Linked DNA regions of Homo sapiens: region 2 is linked to region 1. The links come from fine-mapping of genetic effects on gene expression. Tissue or cell type: whole blood. Region 1 holds a variant in brackets; the other region holds the start of a gene. All regions are shown on one strand. Distances are from middle to middle.

Region 1 (11,056 bases):
CTGAACTCTCCTGCCTGATGCCTTTGCACTGGGACATCAGCTCTTCTGGGTTCTACAGCAGCTTCCAGCTTTCAGACTCAAACCAGGACATCTACTCAGCAGATTTTGGAGTTGCCAGCCTCTGTAATCATGTGAGCCAGTTTCTTATAATAAACCTCTTCATATACTAGTTCTTGTCTTTGGAGAACTCAGAACTCTGAACTCTTGTCTTTAGAGAACTAACACACTGCCTGACTGCGTGATTTTATCATTTATTGCCCTCAACCTCAGAAAGAATTTGAAATAGCTGCTTAGCTACATAAAGTTTCAGGCCAGTGGGCTTTCTTTTAAACTACAATCTTTGCAGGAAAAAATGGCAGGTTCATTGGAAAGGAGTCCTGAAATGAAGCAAGGAAAAGGCAAGAAAGAATAGAAACAGAAGAATTCCCAAGGTTGAAGAGGAAACAAAATGTTAAAAGAAAGATTTTGACCAACCAAAATTAAGAAGCAAAGAACAGGGGGGAAACTAGGCAACAAAAAAGACAAAAGAAAAATAAGTAAATAAAATAAAAAATCAATGGATAAACAATGGCAGCCCGGGCAACATAGTCTCTACAAAAATTTTTTAAAATATCTGAGTGTGCCTGTGGTCCCACCTACTCAGGAGGCTGAGGCAGGAGGACCACTTGGGCCTGGGAGGTTGAGGCTGTAGTGAGCCCTGATGGTACCACTGCACTATAGCCTGGGCAACAGAGCGAGATCCGCTCTCAGAGAAAAAAAAAAAAAATGAGGCACCTAATAAATGTTACTATCTCCTTGCAGCTCTAATGTGGGATTTAATGAGTGTTCAAGGGCTGCTGAGCAGGGACAACATTGTGTACCACCATGTAGCTGAAGAGTTAACTTTCCTAGTTAGGAGGAAATGAAGCTGTGTGCCTGGTTGTAAAGATAAGAGCCATCCAAAACATTTATTTTAGAAAAGAAAGTGACACGAGGGCAAGCAGCCAATTAAAATCTGGAAAGCTGCGACTATGGAAAATTCTACATTTCCTTTCAACGTAAGCACCTAATGACACAGGACTTCATTCCAGAACTAACACTAACACTTCTCAAGCAATCAATTCATATATTCCCATGTTCACGTCTCTCCAAAGTTGCTGTATTTCCCCTGGAAAAACGGAAGAAATCCAATATAGCTACCCAAACAAATACCGTAAATGACTTAAGAGGCAGGGACAGAGAGAAGTTAGAGCGGCAATAATTTATATGATAGACTTAAACCCTTCTTCTACTGAGTGGGGCTCATAGCCTCTTGTCTCTCAGTAAAAGCCTATAATAGTTTGAAGCAAAAAGACAACCCTCCCCTCTAAGAAAAGTGGAAGTGAGAAATATGACATATTGGAAAAATGAAAAGGAAACCAGAATGCTCCCCACCTCGTGCAAAAAATCCCTGTTGTCACATGTTGGCTATTATCAAAAGACTACCGTGTGACTAATTTGGAGCTGTGGAGTCAGCCAGTTATGTGTCAAATATTATTTAAAATGCCCATTTGATAAACAGATGATGACTATGTTTGTGAAGAAATCAAGACAGTTGCAAAAGAATTTAAGAATAAATTTTACAAATTTCTATTACTAAATTCTGCCTGGATCTTCACAGGAAGATCCAGGCAAAGCATTCAGTGTGTTTGCAGAACACTCTTAAAGTTGGAGAAGCTGCAGAGAACTTTCGGGTGCAGAGTCTGGCACACTTCCGGGTTTAGTACATTCTCCATGCATTCATCCACTTCAGTTCTGAACCAGAACCCAGTGCCTGCTATGAATGCGCCAAGCACGACGTAAGAAATAGGGGCTACAAACACACAAGTATGACCACTGCTGCAGTGATCCTTGAAACATGCACATGAGTCCCTAAAATGGGTTCCCTTTGCTAGAAGAAAAAAGTCTGAGTTCTTCACCATGTTCTGAAGACCCCACCTAGGTGCATCTGCTGCACATACCACACCCTTCACTCACTCACTCAGCTATTGCCACGCTGATCCTCTATTACCCAACCTCTATGAGACACTTCCTTCCCCTAGGTCTTCACATGGCTGGCATCCTCTGGGGTATATCTAGACACCCCTCTGAAGCAGCTCTTCCTACCCATTCCCAGCCAGGTTAGTCCTCAATGGCCTTACAGGTGCAGAGGGCGAAAAGTCTTACCTTGTTCGCTATGTTTATTGTGTATCGTCCACCAGCAGGTAGGCTCCATGTGGACAGAGTCCTTTTTCTCATTTGGCTGCTCCTGCCCTAGTACCCAGGTATTCAACAATTACTAAGTATTCACTAAGTGAATGAGGATTCTGCCCTCAGTAAATGGTTGTTGAACAAATGAAGGAACTATGGGCACTTTTACCTAAGCAAGTTGTCAGTGACACATGTACTGAAACAACAGAAAGATATCATCAGACCAGCAAAGTTTCAGATGCTTTATCCCCAGCCAACCAGCTATCTTTTCTTCGGGGACTGCTGACATGAGTGACTGCTAATGTGATAACCAGTGAGATGAGCTACTCTGGGACAGATGTGCAACCTAACCCCCAAGTGGAGGAGGCGGCTGCAGACGGCTGCAGCTAAGGCCAACTGAGATGCTGAGTGGACAAACGAAAACAACAAAAAAGGCAAACAGACAGAATCGACAGCAAGAGCACTGGACGGAGTGAAACCCCAAAGGGCAAATCTCCTTACCATTCGTAAAAGGAAATTCAAATTAATTTTTAAAAATTCTATCGATATAAACAGATAAGCAAAGAATTAAGAGAATTTGTAGAAAATCTGAGCTAATTCCCGGTAGGTTTTTTAAATTGAGAAACAATTCATATACCACAAAATTCACCTTCTAAAGTATACAATTCGGTGATTTTTAATATATTCATAAAGTTGCGTGATCATCAGCACTATCTTAACTCCAGAACGTGATTGCCCCTAAAGAAACCCTGTACCCATTAGCAGCCACTACTAAATCCCTTCCCATCCTGGTTCCTGGCAACCACGAATCTTCTTTCTATACCGATTTATTTGACTATGCATGACATTTCCCATAAATGAAGTCATCTGTGACCTTTTGTGTCTGGCTTCTTGCACTTGGCACGATGTCTTCTAGGTTCATCCATGTTGTGGCGTGGGTCAGTACTTCCATTTCTTTTTATGGCTAATATTCCACTGTGTGGATAAACCGGATTTTGTTCATCCATTCATTCATCAGTTGATGCACACTTGGGTTGTTTCCAATTTTAGCTATTATGAATAATGCAGTTATCAACTTTCATGTACAGGTTTTTGTGTGAATATATGGTTTCAGTTTTCTTGGGTTTACACGTTGGTGTGAACTTGCTGGTCATGTGATGCCAGCAGGTTTTTAATGGGAAATCTGCCTTCTAAACAGATGCAGTTAAAGAGGAACTAATTTCATCTCACATAAGATATGAGGCAGTAGGCAAAAAAGAAACACAAATCATGCAGCATGGAAAAGGGTAGTACACAATAACAACAGCAGTTAATATGTTGAGCCCCTCCTCTGCACCATGTACCATGCTAGAAAATTTGGACCTGCGGTTTAATCCTCATTCTCACAATAGTCCTGTAGTGTTATCCTCATTATCCTTCTTCTACAGAGGAAGGAATGATTCAGACCCTGGGATGCTAGTCTGCCCACGATTTTACATCCTGAGAGAGCACAGATGTGAAGTTGGCTCATGTGGCCTGCTTGGAGGAGGTAGGAAAGGAGAGGAGACTGCTGGAGCATCCCTAGGAACCATCTATGGTCTAAATTCCTCCTCCAAAGCGGCCCCCATCAAATCAACAACAGTAAACGATATTCTTCTTTCAGAGAACACATAGAGAAGCCAATTCTAAAAGGGAAGAAAGTCCAGTTTGAATAGAGCCTCTATCCCGAGGGCAAGTGAGCAGCAATTCGGAATTTGTGAGAAGTGACTTGCCAGTCCTCTGGTCCCAGAACTGGGGTGAGCTGAAGGTGACCAGAGACTGGGGACAAGTGGCCAGTTAGGAGGCTGTCAGAACAGACTAGGAAAGAAATATGGCCAGTGGGGATGCCAAAGGAAGAGCCGGGAGTGGAGGATGGGGCGGGGGGGCCTCCAGAATGCTTCACAAGCCTGAATGCAGAGGGTGGCCAGCTAACGGTAGGAGGTAAAATCCATGCCACATGTCACCGATGGAAAACAAGTCTGACAGAGGGCTCTCCCCTTCCTATTTGCCTCTTTCCAAGGGCAACTGTGAGTTGCTAGACTTCTCAAATAAGGCCTTAATGGCTTCAATGTTTTATGAACCTCTTACATTTCTTAGAGTCAATAAAGACAAATAATATCATTCAAAAGCACGTGGTGAGCATCTCCCTGATGTCTCCCTGCAGAGGCTGGAATAGTGAATGCTCTGCACACAATGGATACTAAGTGAGCACTGATTGACAGAAGAAATTATATTCCCATTAGAACCACACAGCTGTGTTTTCAATTCTGCTGATTCAATATTTCCCATCAGAAACAGCTTCTGGTCTTTCAGTATGACAACCAGTTTACTCTCGTGCACATCAATGCACAAAGTATATGTAGTTGTCTTTTGTGATCAAAGAGAATGCTGTCCTGCGTAGCAATCTGAGGCACACCAACAATGATTCCAAGAGCAATCCTTTCCTCTCTTTTTCTCAGGCTTGTGGGGATGTTAAATCTAGCAATCAAAGTAAACAGAAGCAAGGCTGGCTCTTCCAGTCATAAAAAAACAAACAAAAAAAGCCAAAGGATATGGGATATATTGGAAACTCAAGGTCAAAAAGGCTCATTAGCCAGGTGTGACCAACTAGACCTCTATGTCCAGCGCAGTAGCCACCAGCCACATGTAGCTATTTAATTAGTTAAATAAGATTGGTCAGGTGCAGTGGCTTTCACCTGTAATCCCAGCACTTTGGGAGGCCAAGTCAGGCCAATTGCTTGAGCTCAGGAACTTGAGATCAGCCTAAACAACATGGTGAGCAGTCTCTACCGGGAAAAAAAAATAGCCGGATGTGGTGGCATGTGCCTGTGGTCCCAGTTACTTGGGAGGCTGAGAAGGGAGGATGGCTTGAGCCCAGAAGGCAGCCTGGGCGACAATGCCAGACCTTGTCTCAAAAAAAAATTAGATAAAAAAATTCAGTTCCTCAGTCACACTAGCCACATTTCAAGTGATCTTCAGTCACATGTGACTAGGGGCACCACATTGGGTAGCACAGGTATAGAATGTCCATCATCATAAGAAATTCTTTTGGACACTGCTAAGCCAGGCCGACTAGGTGGTCAAACGTGATAAAATGATGTGTCTATTCTTTACCCACTGACTGATAACATAGGTTGACTTTTCTGGACAGATACCCTTAAATCAGTTTGTTTTCAGACTGTGGGTTTCACAGATCAGTAAAATCCTTTTCCTAACTTAGGGCTGCCGGGTTTGTGTTTTGTCCAGTAAGATTGCCACCAGATCACCAGGCTGCACGCCCCATCAAGGTAGGTAGGCACTGTGCCCATCTGACTGCTTGCATTAAATCCCCAGCGCCTAACACGCCTGGTTCATAGCGCATGCTCAGCAACTGAGTCAGTGATTATATATGCACACGCACATGCACACACATACATATATCCTTACCTTTTTAATTTGATCTTCAGTGAAAACTGTCACTGGCTGGCACTGGTCTGCTCAAAGATGTGTGGGTTTTATGCACACACACACACAGAGGCTAGAGTGTCACAAAATAAGTCATCTAACATTTTTTGAGAACTTTATATTAATAAACGCTTGTAACAAAATATACCAAACCAGAATGCAGAGTGTAGGTTTCTCTAAACTGACTGTACAAGTCAGAACCAAAAATGCAGGGAGGAGAAACTACCTGTTTGCTTTTCAATGGCACCAGAGTGCCCTCTTGTGGTAAAACATGGTATCTGCATAATCACAATTTCTATTTAAAAAACAAGCGTCTTTATGCTTCTAACAATGCATAAAACCTGTACTCAACTATAAAGCACTCTTGAGAAACAGTCTAAATATGTATCTAAGTAGTTTATATAAAATATGGCAAGTTGTGTTGGTGAAAAAAATAATTAAGATTTGTCACAGGACTATGCGGTGAGGCCACCCACATACCTAGGAAACAGCAAAATACATGAAAGCTGCTCTTGGGATTTGATATTCTAAATAGTTCCTGTTCATCTTCTGGTTAAAAAACAAATGACTTTCAAGTTCAAGGTGGTGTCATACAGTTTATTCCTTCCTTTGTCCAACATCAACAATAACCTTTGCTGCCTCCAACTCCTTCTTTCACTTTCATCTTAATAGCCCTTTTCTGGGGGGGAGGAGGGCTTCCTCATATAAACCATTCTTTCAAAGTCTGTTTTGGTTGTTTCTTTTTACACTTTACAAGCAGTGACAAATTATGTCCACAATGAGTTCTCAATTAAAAGATGAAAATGTGACCTTGATCATTTTAGAGTTTTTGCAAATTTCAACTTGATATTCTATGGCCTTCCAAGGGCAAAAGACATCTTTATTGATCAATTTCTGCTGAGACAGAACTCTCCAGTTCTACTGATTTAACGACGTGGAATATTTCTTCAAGTGACAGTAGAAAAAGCTGATTTACCCATGATGATTCTATTAAGTGTGGTCTCTGTCAATAGAGAAGAATCACTATTTGAATGAGACCTCAAGATGCTTACAAATTCTAAATCAACACCCCAATCTGAGGGTTCAGAGGAAGAATCATTAAAAGGTAGTATCCGATTACAACTAACCCCTAGCCTCTGATTCTCCTGGGTATTTGTTTAAAATGTAGGTTATTCCTTGGATCTACTTAAGACTTTAAACCACATCTCTCTGGAGCTTGGTAATGAGCATTTTTATTAAATTCCCCAAGTACAAGCCCCGGTGTACACAATAAGCAATTTCAGTTTTGAGTAACTGCCAGGGAAGGAATGTCCCCCTTTCTGTTTGTTGACTGCCTTCTGATTTGTTTGAAAGCTTTTTTCTTCTTGCATTATCTTGACCATTCCTGGTATGAAGGATGTTGTCTTGTTTCTCCTCAGTTTCATCTTCTGCAGAAGAAGAAACCATGCCAGGCGGCAGTCTCTTACTGTTCATGGCTTCCATGGCTTTACTCTGTTCCCTTTTTCTCTCACAAGTCATCAGCTCAGATCTAAAAATACTCTAAGGGTAAATCCACTGGTGAATAAAATGGTTCCAATGTGCCATATTCCTTTCTTTAGAAAGCAAGAATTACCTCCATATATGAATCTAAAGAATCAATTGTTATCTATGCTAGAAAAATAAAGACCATTAATAAGTGCAATATTGAAATGGGTGAACATCAATTTAGAGACAAGTACTAAACTAGCAAAGTTTTTGCTAGGTTTCCTCCAGAACATAATACCATTTATAGACCTTCTAGGACAAACCATCTTTTATTGACATTAACAGAAGAAGATAATCACATTTTTTATAAAGGCAGGCAAGGTTTTCATTATAAGCTGTTCTATAGTATTTGTATATGTGGTTTTTAACCTTGTGCATATGCTACTTTGATTTCTTCGACAGCTGAGAATGAAGGAGAAAAACCTCATATCTAGATCAATGTCTTATATTTTATTTCCAACATTTTGGACTAATTTTGAAGTAAGAGCAAATAAAGTTTCACATTTGCTGAGTATTTGTTATGTACAAAGTGTTACTTTAAAGGTACTACTGGATATGCACTCATTCAAAAAGCTGGAATATGTTCCACAAAGATTGGTTCCACAAATATCTTTTGTTCCACGAAGATTTCAAAGTGTGGAATGTGTTCCACAAAGATTTTCTGCTGAAGAGCAACTTCAGCAGGGTAGTAAAGAGGTAGAAAAATCTCCTAGGTTGAATAACTGAGGCTACTGAAATTGGCATGCAAACAACTAGACACATTATCTAACCCATCATAGATGAAATGTTCTGGACTCTGGGTTCCTGCCAAATATAATAGCAACACAGGCCAGGCGTGGTGGCTTATGCCTGTAACACCAGCACTTTGGGAGGCTGAGGCGGGAGGATCCCTTGAGCTCAGGAGTTCGAGACCAGCCCGGGCAACATAGTGAGACCTCATCTGTGCTAAAATTTAAAAAATTGGCCAGGCGTGGTAGCACGCACCTGTAGGCCCAGCTACTTGGGGGCTGAGGTGGGAGGATTGCTTGAGCCCAGGAAATCGAGGGTGAGGCTGCAGTAAGCCCTGATCATGCCACTGCACTCTAGCCTGGGTGACAGAGCAAGACCTTGTCTCAAAAACAAAACAAAACAAAACAAAACAAAAATAGCAACACAAGTTAACATCTGATTCTCCATACCGAATAT[C/A]TTTCCTATACCATTGTCCATCTCGGACTCAGGTTAAGCAATGTGTCTGGCTCATTCACACAACAGTTGAGTGTGGGGCGGGAAGTGTGACAACCAGCAGTCAAAAATCTTAGGTTCAAATTCTGACTGGCTCAAGATTTGTGACTCAACAAAGAATTCACTTAACTTCTTTCACCTGAAGTCTCCATACATGAAAATGGGGACCGCCAGTACTCCCTCCATGAACAACACGGGGAGGGGCCGGGAGGATGATGTGGATGTGAATGATCCCTGACAGACACTCAGTAAATGTTTAATGAGTCTGTTATCTAAGCACTATCCTCAAGGAGAACCAGCAGACTCCTCGGGAAGGTAAGTGGCTTGGGACAGTCCCTTTCCAGGAATGGTGACCGCCACCAACAATATCAATAATCCAGCACAGACTGGAGCTCAGTGACACAAACTGCTCTGTTGTTATGTTAGACACAATGACTTCCTTCTAACCCTCAGACTCTACAATGATGTGGATCTGGATTTTCCCAAATTAAACACAGTGAAAAGGAACTACCTGTGTTCCCCAAGGGCTAAGTACCTGCATCAACCTCTCACCATGCACCACTCGCAGCACTTTCTGTGCACGTGGGGTCACACTGACTCACCCCAACATCCCTAATGCGGTGGGCACTCTAATCATGCCCATTTTACAGAGGAGGGACTGGAACTCGGAGACCACTCTGCCCAGGACCACACAGCTCGTCAGCAGCAGAGCTGGGGCCTGGCCTCAGAGCACATGCTCAGCCACTCTGCTATAATTTCTCTGGTGGAAATCACAGTGAAAGTCCCGTCGTTTCAGACATATGCTGGGATTCTAAACCTTATGCAGTCTGTACCTACTCTCATGAGAACAACAGTAAAGTCTAAATAAAACCTTAAAAGTCACTGTGTGGCTGAGCTTCAGGTTAGTGACATGTTTTTCTTAAAAGTCAATTTAATGTCAAAACATGCCCCCCCATGATAGAGAGAGTAGCGCCACGTTACAGATACTAAGACTCAAAGAACATGTGCAAAAGACAAAGAACCAAAATTTTCTGATAGCAAAATCTTTCACAGCTTCCTCTTGTCCAAAGAAAAACTGAAGATAAATCCACACTCCAAACATGTCTTTAGTTTAGAATTCTGACAGATGACTTGGCAGTGAGTGTCAAAAACTTAAGTGTACATAACCTATGACCCTACAAATTCCACTTCTCAGATCTTACAGAAATACTAATACAAGTATACAAAGAAATCTGTGCAAGGATGCTGACTGCAGCAGTGTTTGTTAAGAGCAAAAACTAAAAACAAGCAGACTATCCATCCACTCGGCTAAACACATGATGACAGACACTCAATGGAACGCCACGCAGCCAGTTAAAAGAATGAGGTAGCTCCAGCTTCACTGACACAAAGGATTCTCTTAGATATACTCTTAAGCAAAAAAGCAAGTGACAGGATGTGTGTGGTATAATCCTATTTTATTAAAAATAAACTGTGTGTGTGTATACGTGTGTGTGTGTGAGACAGAGATGTAAAGACATAGAAAAGGGCCTAGAAAAATACATAAACTTCCCTTGGGAGGTGGAAATTGAGGGAGGGGGTCTCTCATGTTCTACATTGTGGATGTCTGTATTTGCTTGAAATTATTTATGAAATAATATAATATTTTGAAACAAAAGATTTTGGAGGCTAATTTTCTAAAGGGAATAGCATAGCTTAGATATGCCCCTAAACTGAAATGTAAACTTTTTTCCCATTTGCAAACCTGTGAGTACGTAGTAAGAGAAACATTGCCACAAAATCCTCTTTTAAAAGCTCTTTCAGGACACTAAATTAAGTCATTCATTTCTGAGATTTTAAAGGCCAACAATGTCTCTATTTTCAGACTATGTCACAAATGACATAAATGCCAAAATTATAGATCTTAAGAAGACAACACATAAAATACAGACTTAGACAAAACAAATGACTAAAGCTGCATAGTTCTGCTAGACTTTATTCAAAACTGGCTCTATTCTTAATTATTTGAGAGACCTAAAATTCTAGTGTTCAAATGTAAATACCCATCATATACTGAAAAGTCATCTTCAAATTTGTGTTCTGACCCAAATTTGGCTCAATTAAATCATACGAAAGTCAGACAACACAAATGGTTACACCTCAGCATATAACAAAATCCTGGAAGCAGCATAGCAAGTGAGCTATGACATCATTTAACTCTCAAACAGAACTGTAATCTTAAGTTACACACACCACAATACACCTTTGCACAGGTAATTTTATTCTCTCCTGTGGGTGTTGACAGTGCTCATTGATTGAAATTTGAAACGTTCAGAAATCCCATACCTGAAGATGGTCACATATTCTTTACATCATGATTCAGTAACTATTCAACAGTTATGTCTACTAAATACAGTGAACAAAACAGTATAAATGTTTACACCATTCCCCTGTGAACAGGGCTTTTGTGCACAATAGTAACAAATGGAATTAATGCATACCATGATATCAATAAGGAAGAGACCTTCTCTTTAAATAAACTATTTTGTTTATAAATAAACTCTGATTTTTTTAGTACACATTTACAGACCTGATCAATAAAAAGAAACTATATATATATATTTTTTCCTTTAAAAAGAAAATGTTGAGATACAGACCACTG
Region 2 (11,056 bases), 54 kb after region 1:
CTACCATAATTTCTTGCCATAAATATACTTAAATATGAAAGGCAATTTAATCTTTATTAGACTCATTTTATCAACTACAATTTTTTTATTCCACATTTGCCTAGAAAGCAATCTGTAAAAGCAAAGCCTTACTTTCACACAGATACCTATCACAAAAACTGGAAACACACTGTGACATTGTGGAGTGGGGGCTGGGGATGTAATACATAATACAATGTTGGAAAATTTCTAGTAACTTCTGGTAAAGCTACTGAATTGGCAGACATGGCCAGGAGGGCCCTGTCGTACACCCATTACTGCAAGTAATCACCAAAACCTTCTCAGCTTCTAGAGACTCCTCCTCTGCACAGGCAACTCAGCGGTGACCCAGTGGGCAAATAATTCCTTCCATGCCAGGGGATTCCCTGAATCTACACTCATGGCTCCCAAAACATGACTTCCCTTTTCTTCATGGCTGGCAATTTATAATAGTGACTGGACCACGGTACCACATTCTGCTAGAAGGTGCTGATATCTCCAATACAATGTATTTTGGCCTGAAATTCACCAACTTAAAGACTTTAAGATTAGTTTTCTCCAACTCATGACCCTAAGTAAGCTTGAGATTCTGTTTACTGGTAACAACTATCACTGAATATGTACCACATGTTGTGCCCAGTGATAAGCACTTGCATCTACTAAAGCAATTTTGTATTTAATTCCCTCACAAGATGTGTTATCACCACCCCCACTTGCAAATGAGGGAACAGCTGGTGAAATTAGTTGCCCAAAGACATTTAGTGACTACATTTTATTGGGATTAAGGGGACTCTATTTGAGTTATTCATGCAGTTTTACAAAAGACAAGTGCCTCAAAGAAATATTAGGATATAGTTTCAGTAATTTTACACTAAAGGAGTTACATTAAAACATCAAACACTAGATTTTAAATTACTTGAATTCCATTATATGCAGTTTATTAAAATATTACTTTTAACCTCTGTAACCTCAACATCTTAATATTTGTCCAACAAATAAACTGACACCACATGCATGTTTTGCACCAAATGGTGCCTCTCTCCTCCAGGAGGAGTCTGGAAATGTATGGGAGCATTTTGGGTTGTCCCAATGTGGAGATCGCTAATCAGCATTTAGTGGGTAGGGGCGAAACAGACCTCCAAACTGCCAATAGCACCCACATAGAAACACTAAACTATGGGCTGATTCAAAAGGAAAACCTTTCATGGTAAAGTTAAACCACCTGTTAACACGCCTTAATTTACAACTTCCTATTCATTGATAGTCTGTTTAAAATATCTTAGAAGATCCATCGATCCCTTTCTATAAAACATCACTTACCTAGCATTTTATTTTCAAATACACACACATACTCACACAGACACACACACACACACCCCACATTTTAGATATACAGTTAATACTCTTTTATCCCCGATGTAACCAAAGCACTTCTCCTCCACTGCCTACCTGGCTCATTTTTTAACTCAATAAATGCATAGTAACCAAAGCACCTCTCCTCCACTGCCTACCTGGCTCATTTTTTTAACTCAATAAACGCATAGTACATTTGCACATGGTATAATCTTAGAAGTAGATGTCCTGCTGGATAAAAAATTTTGTTTCAGCATCAAGAATATAGTTTGAAATTTCTAGTTCCAAGAATCACTCATGTCAATAGGAAATTTTAGACTGCCTTGGTTCACTGCCTAAGCGTCCCAAGGGCACTATGCTAATGTTTATACTATGTCTGTCTTTAAAAATTGATGAAAAATGGAAATCTAACATGAATTAATTTATAAATGATATATAATTCCACACCCAAAGAGTGAAAAAGATGTAACCTGTAGACAGATTTAAATATGTACAAGAGCAAAATTTTAAGTAGGAGGTACTCAGTCAAAACTGTAGTACTCCTAAGCAGAACCAAGTTCAAAAGAAGACTTGCTGCTTAGGGACGGGTAAACTACATGGAGACCTTTGGCAAAGGTTTACTTTGGCATTCCAGTTGGCCAATGGTATTATCTCGTGAGTTGTGGAAATAATCACAAAATCAGATTTTTGAAGCCCTGAAGTTTCTTTTTAGGTTGAAAAAACTAATGTACATGAGGCTCCTAAGACTAATATACCAAAAAAATAAAAATGAGTATTTTGTGCCAAGTTTTAAAAGCTGAATTACACTATCTAGCTCTCAGCATTTAGTTAGATCCTGAGTACTGTTTCTTTAGATTTTATCTAGTCCCTACAAGGTATACCAAAAGAGAAAAAGATCCAGGACTTCTGAGACAGAACCCTGAGGCTCAGTCTTCAGCATAATTTGAGACTCACTTTTTGCCAAAGAACTGTGATTGACAACCTGAGCACTTTCAGTTCACCTTATTGTTCATTATTTCCTCCAGATGAACTGTAAATTGAACAGCTCTATCCAAGATTATAGATAAGACATAGCCCACCACTGCCAATTCCTTTGAAGCTGTTCTACTAGAAAAAGTTCATCAAAAGTGCTGACTCTTCAGGGAGAAGTTCCCCCCCCCCAAAAAAAAATGCTGAATCAAAGACTACTGTGCACTTCAAAAAACTCGCCCTTTTCTCTAGATGTGACTGTGGTTAGTACTGTGTAGGTAATCAGCAGGAATACATCAGCAGTCAGAAAACTGTGGCAGTTACTCCGGACTCAGCCAAATCACTTTACGTGTTTCTCTAGCTCCAGGTTCCCATCTATACAATGAATAGCATTTTCATCCACTGTCTTTCAAAGAACTGTGAGAACAAAATAAATATGAAAGTGATCCCTCCCTGTAACTATATTTCAATAAAAGATATTCTGAAATAGATGACCTTACAAAAGGATAAATTTGAAAAGCCAAAACAAATTTTTGCAAAAGAGCCTCTGCTATGTACTTCAGGACTGCCTCGAGGGTAGTTACGACTACCCTGTGAAGGGTACAAATAGAATCGAATCATTCTTTCCCTTCCCCAAGTCCTGAACCCTCTAAAAGTGAATACAGTTAAACATTCTGAAGTCCTCAGTGGAGAGAGAAGGTATCTTGTCTTCAAATCCTTCAGTGGATTACAACAATGTTCCCCTGAGCGGGTCTCCCCTCATTCACTTTTGCCACCCTCCACATTATCTCCCCCCCACCAAAAAAAAAAAAAAAAAGCCACAACCTGTCTCAATCCACTGCCTGTAATCTTCACTGGCTTCCCTCTGTTTTTAGAATAAAAGCTCTGCTTGGCGTGACCCCAGCTTTCTCCACCTGCCTCTCTCCCTCCCCGTTTCAGCCATGCTAGCCTTTCAAAAAGGCTGAAAAGCTTTCTTCCTCTTCACATTTCAGGGCCTTGACATACGCTGTTGCTTCAGCCTGAAATGTTCCTTTTTCGTTTTTCAGAGACAGGGTCTAGCTCTGTTTCCCAGGAGGGAGTGCAGTGGCATGATCACAGCTCACTGCAGCCTCGAACTACTGGGCTCAAATGATCCTCTCGCCTCAGCCTCCCGAGCAGCTAGGACTACAAGCACACACCACCACTCCCAGCTAGTTATTTTTTTATTTTTGGTAGAGACGGTGGTCTCACTATGTTGCCCAGGCTGGTCCTGAACTCCTGGCCTCAGGCAATCCTCCCACCTCAGCCTCCCAAAATGTTGGGATTATAGTCACGAGCCACCCTGCCAGGCCTGGAATGTTCTTTTCACTCACACCTTCACATTCCCTTTTCAGTCTCTTTTCAGATCTCAGGTCAAAAGTCATACCCTCTCAGAGCGAGAGGGTATGAAGAATATAAATAAAATTGTTTTAATCTTTAAAAAGTCATATTCTTAGCAATGCCTTTTTAAAATCTTCCATAATACACATGCCCCTACTACACTCTTTCATACCACTGTTATTCCTTCAAAGCACATTTCACGCTTGCTTGATTTTTAAAATCCATCCCCTCTGCTTGCCTGTAAGCTCTATAAAGACAATTTTCTAAACCCTACCATCAGCACTGTACCTGCATACAGCATGTATTCAGTACACATTATTTGCATGAATAAGTAAACGACTACCATTCAAAAGTCCTCGTTACCTGACTCCCAACTTTCTTTCCCACTTCTCCGCAGTGCAATCCACTGTAAAAGCTACTTCTGACTCCACCAGAAGCATTCCCTACCCCCATCTTCAGGCTTTCAAATCCTGTGGCTTTCCCTGCCTGTAAAATTATCCCCATTTCTCTCAACCTGTTCAAATCCTGAGGGCTTGCCAAGACTCAAGTTTTCTTTCCTCCAGAATATCTTCCCATAGTGCCAGTTTACACATGTGTCGTTGCTCCACACTTTCAAAGCACTTCGCATTCTCTTTTTGGTAAGTATACATAAACTGCATCGTATTTTAACGTGTCCTGTGTGTAGACTTTTCTCTCCAACGTTAGTGCTAACTCCTAAGGATAGACTGTTCACATCCCACCCGTTCCATTCCCAGAGCGGCGCTAAGTACTGGGCTCGCACTGAAGCATGTGATTTTTCCCTAACATACCAGAATTTTCCTCTGAAAAGAATACTAGCTTCCCCCTTACTCCTGTTTCTCAAGTGATTCAATATGCCTTATGTGACTCTCACCAAGTTCTTTTCTAGGGGTTTGTTTTGTTTTGTTCTGTTTTGTTTGCCTACCCTCCCCCATTCTACTAAAAAATAGTTGAGTTCTCTGGATTCCTGTTCTTTCTCATTCCTAGAGGGACCTTGTGTACTCTGTGAGGGTTCCTTGCCTGCAGTTAGGGGCTCCTAGGCCTTTAAACTGTCATCCCACCACCCCCGACCCCCGACACCCGCGCCCCCCCCAACACACACCCAGTGAAGGCACTTGCGCTAGCTGTGACCTCACACACACCACTCCATAGCCTCACCTGGACCTATCACTTCATTCCCCTCAATCAATCAGGCGGCGTGCATTCCTACCCAAGAAGAAAGATCCCAGACCGCTGTATCTCTCCTTTCTGCCTGTCATTAACTACCCACGAGAGCTCTTTCTCTTTTTCCCTCCTTCTCTTCCTTAGAGACGGAACCTAGGCCCAAGACGGTGAATTGGCGCCGAGAAACCAGACACAGCCACCCAGCCAGCTCCAGCTCCAACGCCACGGTCTCTGCCCCCGCACCCACCCGCGTCCCTCCCAGGCAGCGACCGGAGCTCATGCTTCGGCCTGACCAGGACTCCCCATCCGGGGAGAGCCATCGCTCACTGACCCAGGAAGGTGTCAAACGAGGAAGTAGCAGCAGTAACAGGTACCGAGGCAGACAGCCTAGCGGACGCTATCGGCTCAGCGATCCATCCCTTCCCGACCTAAGCTCCGGCCTCACGGCTTCCTCTACCCAAGCGAACACAGAACAAGTCACGTGCCAGCCCAGCAGTCAGCTGACCGCGGCGCGCGCTGCTCCGCCTACGCCCGCGCCACTGCGCAGCCGCAGCCGCTGCCACTGCCGGGCCTTGGGAGAGGGGCGGGACTAGGAGGCTACGGGGCGGCAAGGGGACCCTATATTCGGGGCTGATCGCTGTTGTTCCAGAGTGGGTGGGGTTTTCCGCTTCTTCCAGTGTTGCAAGTGGCGTTTTGTCCACCACTTGTAAACGTCAGCGCCACTGCAGGTTTCTGCGGGTCAGAAATTGTCTCCAACCCCCTACAAGGGCTTCTCCACTTGGGGTTTTCTTCGTCAGCTGGGTTTTCTACCTAGTATACTGGCTAGTAGTTCATTTTAGCAGATTCACATTTTCCTGAAGTCCACTTAGACTTAATTTCATAAATGGTCCATGGAGCATTTACTGTGCGCCAAGCACTGCGCTCGTTCTTAGGATTGCCTACTGGAGAGAATCACTCCTTGCCACGAAAGCGCCTCATAGATAGTTGAAACCACATTAGATAGTGGGAAACCAAAGGTTTTAGGACAGAGGCATAGACAGGGGAAAGCATCTCCTTTGGAGAAAAATAGGTAACAAGCTCCTCCCAGGAACCCTGCTTATTTCATTAGCTTGGGGAGATAGATAGTAATGTCCTAATTTAGAACACAGAGTTTTAGAAGTAGTAGAAATTTTGAGATGTTCTAATTTAATCCTTTTAGATCTACAGATGAAGAAAGTGAGGGCACGGAGTTGTTCAGCGCAAGGGAATAGATACCAGGTGTTGAATCCAGGCTCTCCTACTTACTAGTTGTGTGACCTTACTCCTCTGAATTTCAGCCTGTTCACATGCAAAGTGGTGGTAATAATACCTTACACAGGTATTGTGAGGATTAAATGAAGCCTGTGGTTAGCACAGTGCCTGGTACATAGGAAACAACCAGTAAATGGTCGTCATTATTACTATGTATTATAGGACCCAGGTTTTCTGACCTATACTATGCCTTTTCTGCTGTGTCCCCCTACAGAAATTCACCACAGAATTTCTCAGAGCCTCAGTATTAGGTTGGACAGAAAGTAACAACCACCAGACTATCCCCAACCTGACGCTTTCACCAGTTTTGGATGAAGTTCATGCAATTACAATAACCAGTTCTATAACATGGCTTCAGAAACTTATCAGAATTCCAGAGGCTTTTATCTGCCATCACGAAATGAGCCTAAAGGCATTTTTTTTTTGGTTAGGTCCACTAAAACTTTCTGCCATGATGCAAATGTTATCCTGTGCTGTCTGTACAGTACCCACTAGCTACATGGAGCCATTGAGCACTTGAAATATGGTTAGTGTGACTTAGTAACTGAATTTTAAAATTTATTTCACTTTAATTAAAATTTAAATAGCCACATGAGACCAGTGACAACAGCCTTAGACAGTGCAGTTTTAAGGTCCATGCTTGAACTATCTTGGTTTCTTCGTGCTTGTGTGTGGTCCTGAGGCAGACTTTTTGTCTTGGATTCTTAATTTCTAAACTGAATTATACCTCGCGCAACTTTCCAACATTTGGGGTTTTTTTTTTAGTTTTGGGGTTTTTTTTGAGATGGAGTCTCGCCCTGTCGCCCAGGTTGGAGAGCAGTGGTGCGATCTCAGCTCACTGCAAACTCCACCTCCCGGGTTCAAGCGATTCTTGTGCCTTGCCCTCCTAAGTAGCTGGGACTACAGGCGTGCACCATCACACCCAACTAATTTTTGTATTTTTAGTAGAGACGGGTTTTCCTCATGTTGGCCAAGCTGGTCTCCAAGTCCTGAGGTCAAGTGATCTGCCCACTTGGCCCTCCCAAAGTGCTGGGATTACAGGGGTGAGCCATCGTGCCTGGCCTCCAGTGTTTTAATTACCATGTTATACTTGGGAGGCAGTACAACAGAGTGTTCAATAAATGTTAGCTCTAATTTTTATGAGGTTTAATGTATCTCACTTAAAAATTTAGGAAACATAGCTGGGCATGGTGGTGCATGCCTATAGTCCCAGCTACTCGGGAGGCTGAGGTGGGAGGACCCCTTGAGCCCAGGAGTTCGAGGCTGCAGTGAGCTAAAATTGCACCATACACTCCAGCCTGGGCAACAGAGCAAGACCCCATCTCAAAAAATCAAATAAAAATCTAGCAAAGATGTTTAATATAAGCAGGGCATGATTGCTCTCCAGTGGTTTCTAATAGTAAAGTAATATGTTTTTACAGAGAAGCAACTCACTTTTTAAAAACTGTACTATGCATAGAAGCATACTAGGTAGCCATGGGCATGTCACACCTTTTCCTCCATTTCCACCTATCTAAAGACTACTCATCTCCAAACATCTAAGTTTAAAGCACTCCTAAGATGCATGGGAGAAGATTTATTTTTTTCTTACAACTTTTTCCGGGGAAAAAATTTATTTTTTCCTTTATTAAAATATTGAGCTTATTTCAGTTACATATTTTTGTCTTCCCACCATTTCCATTTGTCTGACCACAGCTACTACTATGTCCTATCATAATATTCCATACATACATATATACTGAAAACCAAGCAAAGAGCCAGGCGTGGTGGCTCACACCTGTAATCCCAGCACTTTGGGAGGCTGAGGTGGGCAGATCACTTGAGGCCAGGAGTTTGACACCTTCCTGACCAACATGGCAAAATGCCATCTCTACTAAAAATACAAAAATTAGCTGGGTGTGGTGGTGCATGCCTGTAATCCCAGCTGCTTGGGAGGCTGAGGCAGGAGAATTGCTTGAGCCTGGGAGCCAGAGGCTGCAGTGAGCCAAGATAGTGCCACTGCCCTCCAGCCTGAGTGACAGAGCAAGACTCTGTCTCAAAAAAAAAAACAAGCAAACGATGGAGTTTCATCTTTAAAAACTACAGGGGCATTTTGGACAACACATTTTTGGCAATGGAACCTGGACAATATTTATCCAACGTGCTAGGGAACTTCTCACTCTGAATTGTAAAAAGGACAGTTAGATATCAACTGTTACAGAAATGAAATGACAGATAATTTTTTTCTCTAAAAGAACTATTAACGAAATGACAGGTAATTTTTTTCTCTAAAAGAACTATTGGGTTAAAAGATTTAAAAAAAAAAAGAAGAAAGAAAATTTTAACAAGCTGTTTAAACTATTTTTTTTTTTTTTTGAGACAGAGTCTCACTCTGTTGCCCATGCTGGAATGCAATGGCGTGATCTCTGCTCACTGCAACCTCTGCCTCCCAGGTTCAAGCGATTCTCCTGTCTCAGCCTCCCAAGTAGCTGGGAATACAGGCATCCACCACCACGCCTGGCAAATTTTTTGTATTTTTATTTATTTATTTATTTATTTTTGGAGAGACAAGGTTTCACCATGTTGGCCAGGCTGGTTTTGAACTCCTGACCTCAAGTGATCTGCCCACCTTGGCCTCCCAAAGTGCTAGGGTTACAGGCATGAGCCACCACGCTTGGCCTAAACTGTGTTCTTAAAGAGACTTCTTCCACTGCCAGAGATGGTGAATAGCCTCCTAGTTGGTCATCCAGAAGTAATTCTTCACATAATTGATGCACTTAGCTTTGGGAAGAGAACCAACTTTTTCTATACTTGCTTGCATTTTTGCTTTTAATATATTCTACAAAACTAGGTCCTTTTGGTGTTTTAAGAGGTTTTTTCCCCCTGTTTTTGAAGGATTCTTGACCTTTTGGTCTTAATCTTGATAGTTCTGAGTCTTTTTTATTTTGGTTTGATCTTTGTGCATTTTTTGGATGGAGTATCCTGTATAAATTTCATCACTAGAGCTTTTTCTTCAGTTTTCCCTTCATCAAAATGTTCTTCCTCTTCATCATCATCATGATTTTCATCAGCAAGAAGTTTTATTTTTTTCTTGTAGAAATGTACCCACTTCCAGGGGCAGATCACTTTCCAGATATACTGAAAAGTCTCACATCTCCCTCCTCTTCATGTCCTGCTTTGTATCTTCCTTCATACCTGTTAAGTGCTGTGTACTCATATGCCCAGGCCCTGAAACACACTGAGTGTAAGGCCACAGGCAATGTTATTTCAAAGCCCCCAAGATAAACCATTGACTGTACATACCTTTTTAAAGTTGCTAGTATTACTTTAATTGGACTGCCTTCATAGTTCATTACTTCTGCTTCAACAATATAAAATCCATCCTTTCTACCAGCCCCTAAACTGACCATTCTTAAAGATAACTTGTGCTCATTTTCATCATTATCCACCTTAAAGTGATAATCTTTGTTGGCCTCTAGTCACAACCAAAAAGATAGTTCTGGGGCCTCAGGAGGCTGATGTCCATGTCCGTCAAATCTTCCATGGGTGGCGGCAAGCACTTAGGTAGGAGAGAAGCCAGGCAGAGGTAAACAACCACGCTCCAGAGAACAGCTGTGCAGGATGGAATCATACCAGCAACCAATTATTTTGTTTTTTGATTACTGTTTTCTTTTTTTAATTTTTTAAATATTTTTTAACTTTTATTTTAAGTTCAGGGGTACGTGCGCAGGTTTGTTACATAGGTAAACTTGTGTCAAGGAGGTTTGTTGTACAGATTATTTCATCACCCAGGTATTAAGCCTAGTATCCATTAGTTAAACAAAGTGGAGAAAGTATTTGAAGCAAATAGGGCAACAGGATTCAGAACTCTTTTTCACTCTGGTATAATAGTCAAGATATCTTGAAAGTTGTTACTGGCATTTCCCTTAGGAAACTAAGTGTCCTTGTTTAAGAAAATACCTTGATAAACTAATATCTTCCACTAGGGTGGAAGAAAAACTGAGAGTATGGTTAAATGGAGGCAAAGACCAAAGAAATAACTTGAGCTAGTTTCCACTGAAAAGCAACAGAAATTGGAGAATGAAGAGATGGGAGAGAGGCATAGGGAAGAGAAGGAAAGAAAGAGAAAAGAGAAAGACAAATGACAAGGGACTTATAAAAAGAGGAATATTTAGAACTCAATTTGAGCTTACTTCAGTTGCTGTGATTTAAATCCTTTGCCATCTTCCCAGAGCTTTAATAAAGTCTACGCTCAAATGCCTTTATGCAAAATTCTTTTGTAGACATATATGCTATCCAGGTTATAATATACAGAGAGCTTGAACAAATTGATAAAAGCAATACTAAGGGCTGAGCACGGTGGCTCATGCCTGTAATCCCAGCACTTTGGGAGGCCAAGGAAGACGGATCACTTGAGGCCGGGAGTTTAAGACCAGCCAGGCCAACATTGCAAAACCTTGTCTCTACTAAAAAATACAAAAATTATTAAGGTGTGGTGGTGTATGCCTGTCATCCCAGCTACTCAGGAGGCTGAGGGATGAGAATTGCTTGAACCTGGGAGGCAGAGGTTGCAATGAGCCAAGATAGCGACACTGCACTCCAGCCTGGGTGACAGAGCAAGACTCTGTCTCAAAAAAAAAGGAACAATACTAAGACCATCCAAAAGACAAATGAGCAAAAAGCACAAAACAGTTAAGAAAAAAAGAAGTGCTATTGGCTATAACATACGGGGAATATTCACTCTTACTAGTGCTCAAAAATATAAATAAGAACAATACAAAATTTTATAAACACAAATATTAAAATAAATAGAAATAACTCATATTAGCAAAGATAGAAATATACACATAATAGCCAATGCTGGTGAGGGTGTGGTAAGATAGACTCTTACACTACTAGTAGAAAT

What was found. PIP is the estimated chance that this variant, and not a neighbour inherited with it, causes the effect.
Region 2: it holds the start of ATP6V1C1, and the variant in region 1 is fine-mapped to the expression of ATP6V1C1 in whole blood (TOPMed, PIP above 0.99).

The regions. Positions count from the first base shown.
Region 1 is chr8:103,068,882-103,079,937 of GRCh38, reverse strand. It overlaps ATP6V1C1 (ATPase H+ transporting V1 subunit C1), which reads right to left. Exons shown (of 13, transcript NM_001695.5): 13 at 6,887-11,056. Among named protein-coding and RNA genes, the nearest start is that of LINC01181, 47 kb to the left of the region's middle. RefSeq lists an enhancer at 1,232-1,401. The variant C/A (reference allele first, on the strand shown) is at 8,380.
Region 2 is chr8:103,015,382-103,026,437 of GRCh38, reverse strand. ATP6V1C1 (ATPase H+ transporting V1 subunit C1) reads right to left here and starts at 5,355. Exons shown (of 13, transcript NM_001695.5): 1 at 5,213-5,355. It also overlaps the pseudogene NPM1P52. RefSeq lists an enhancer at 4,916-5,125.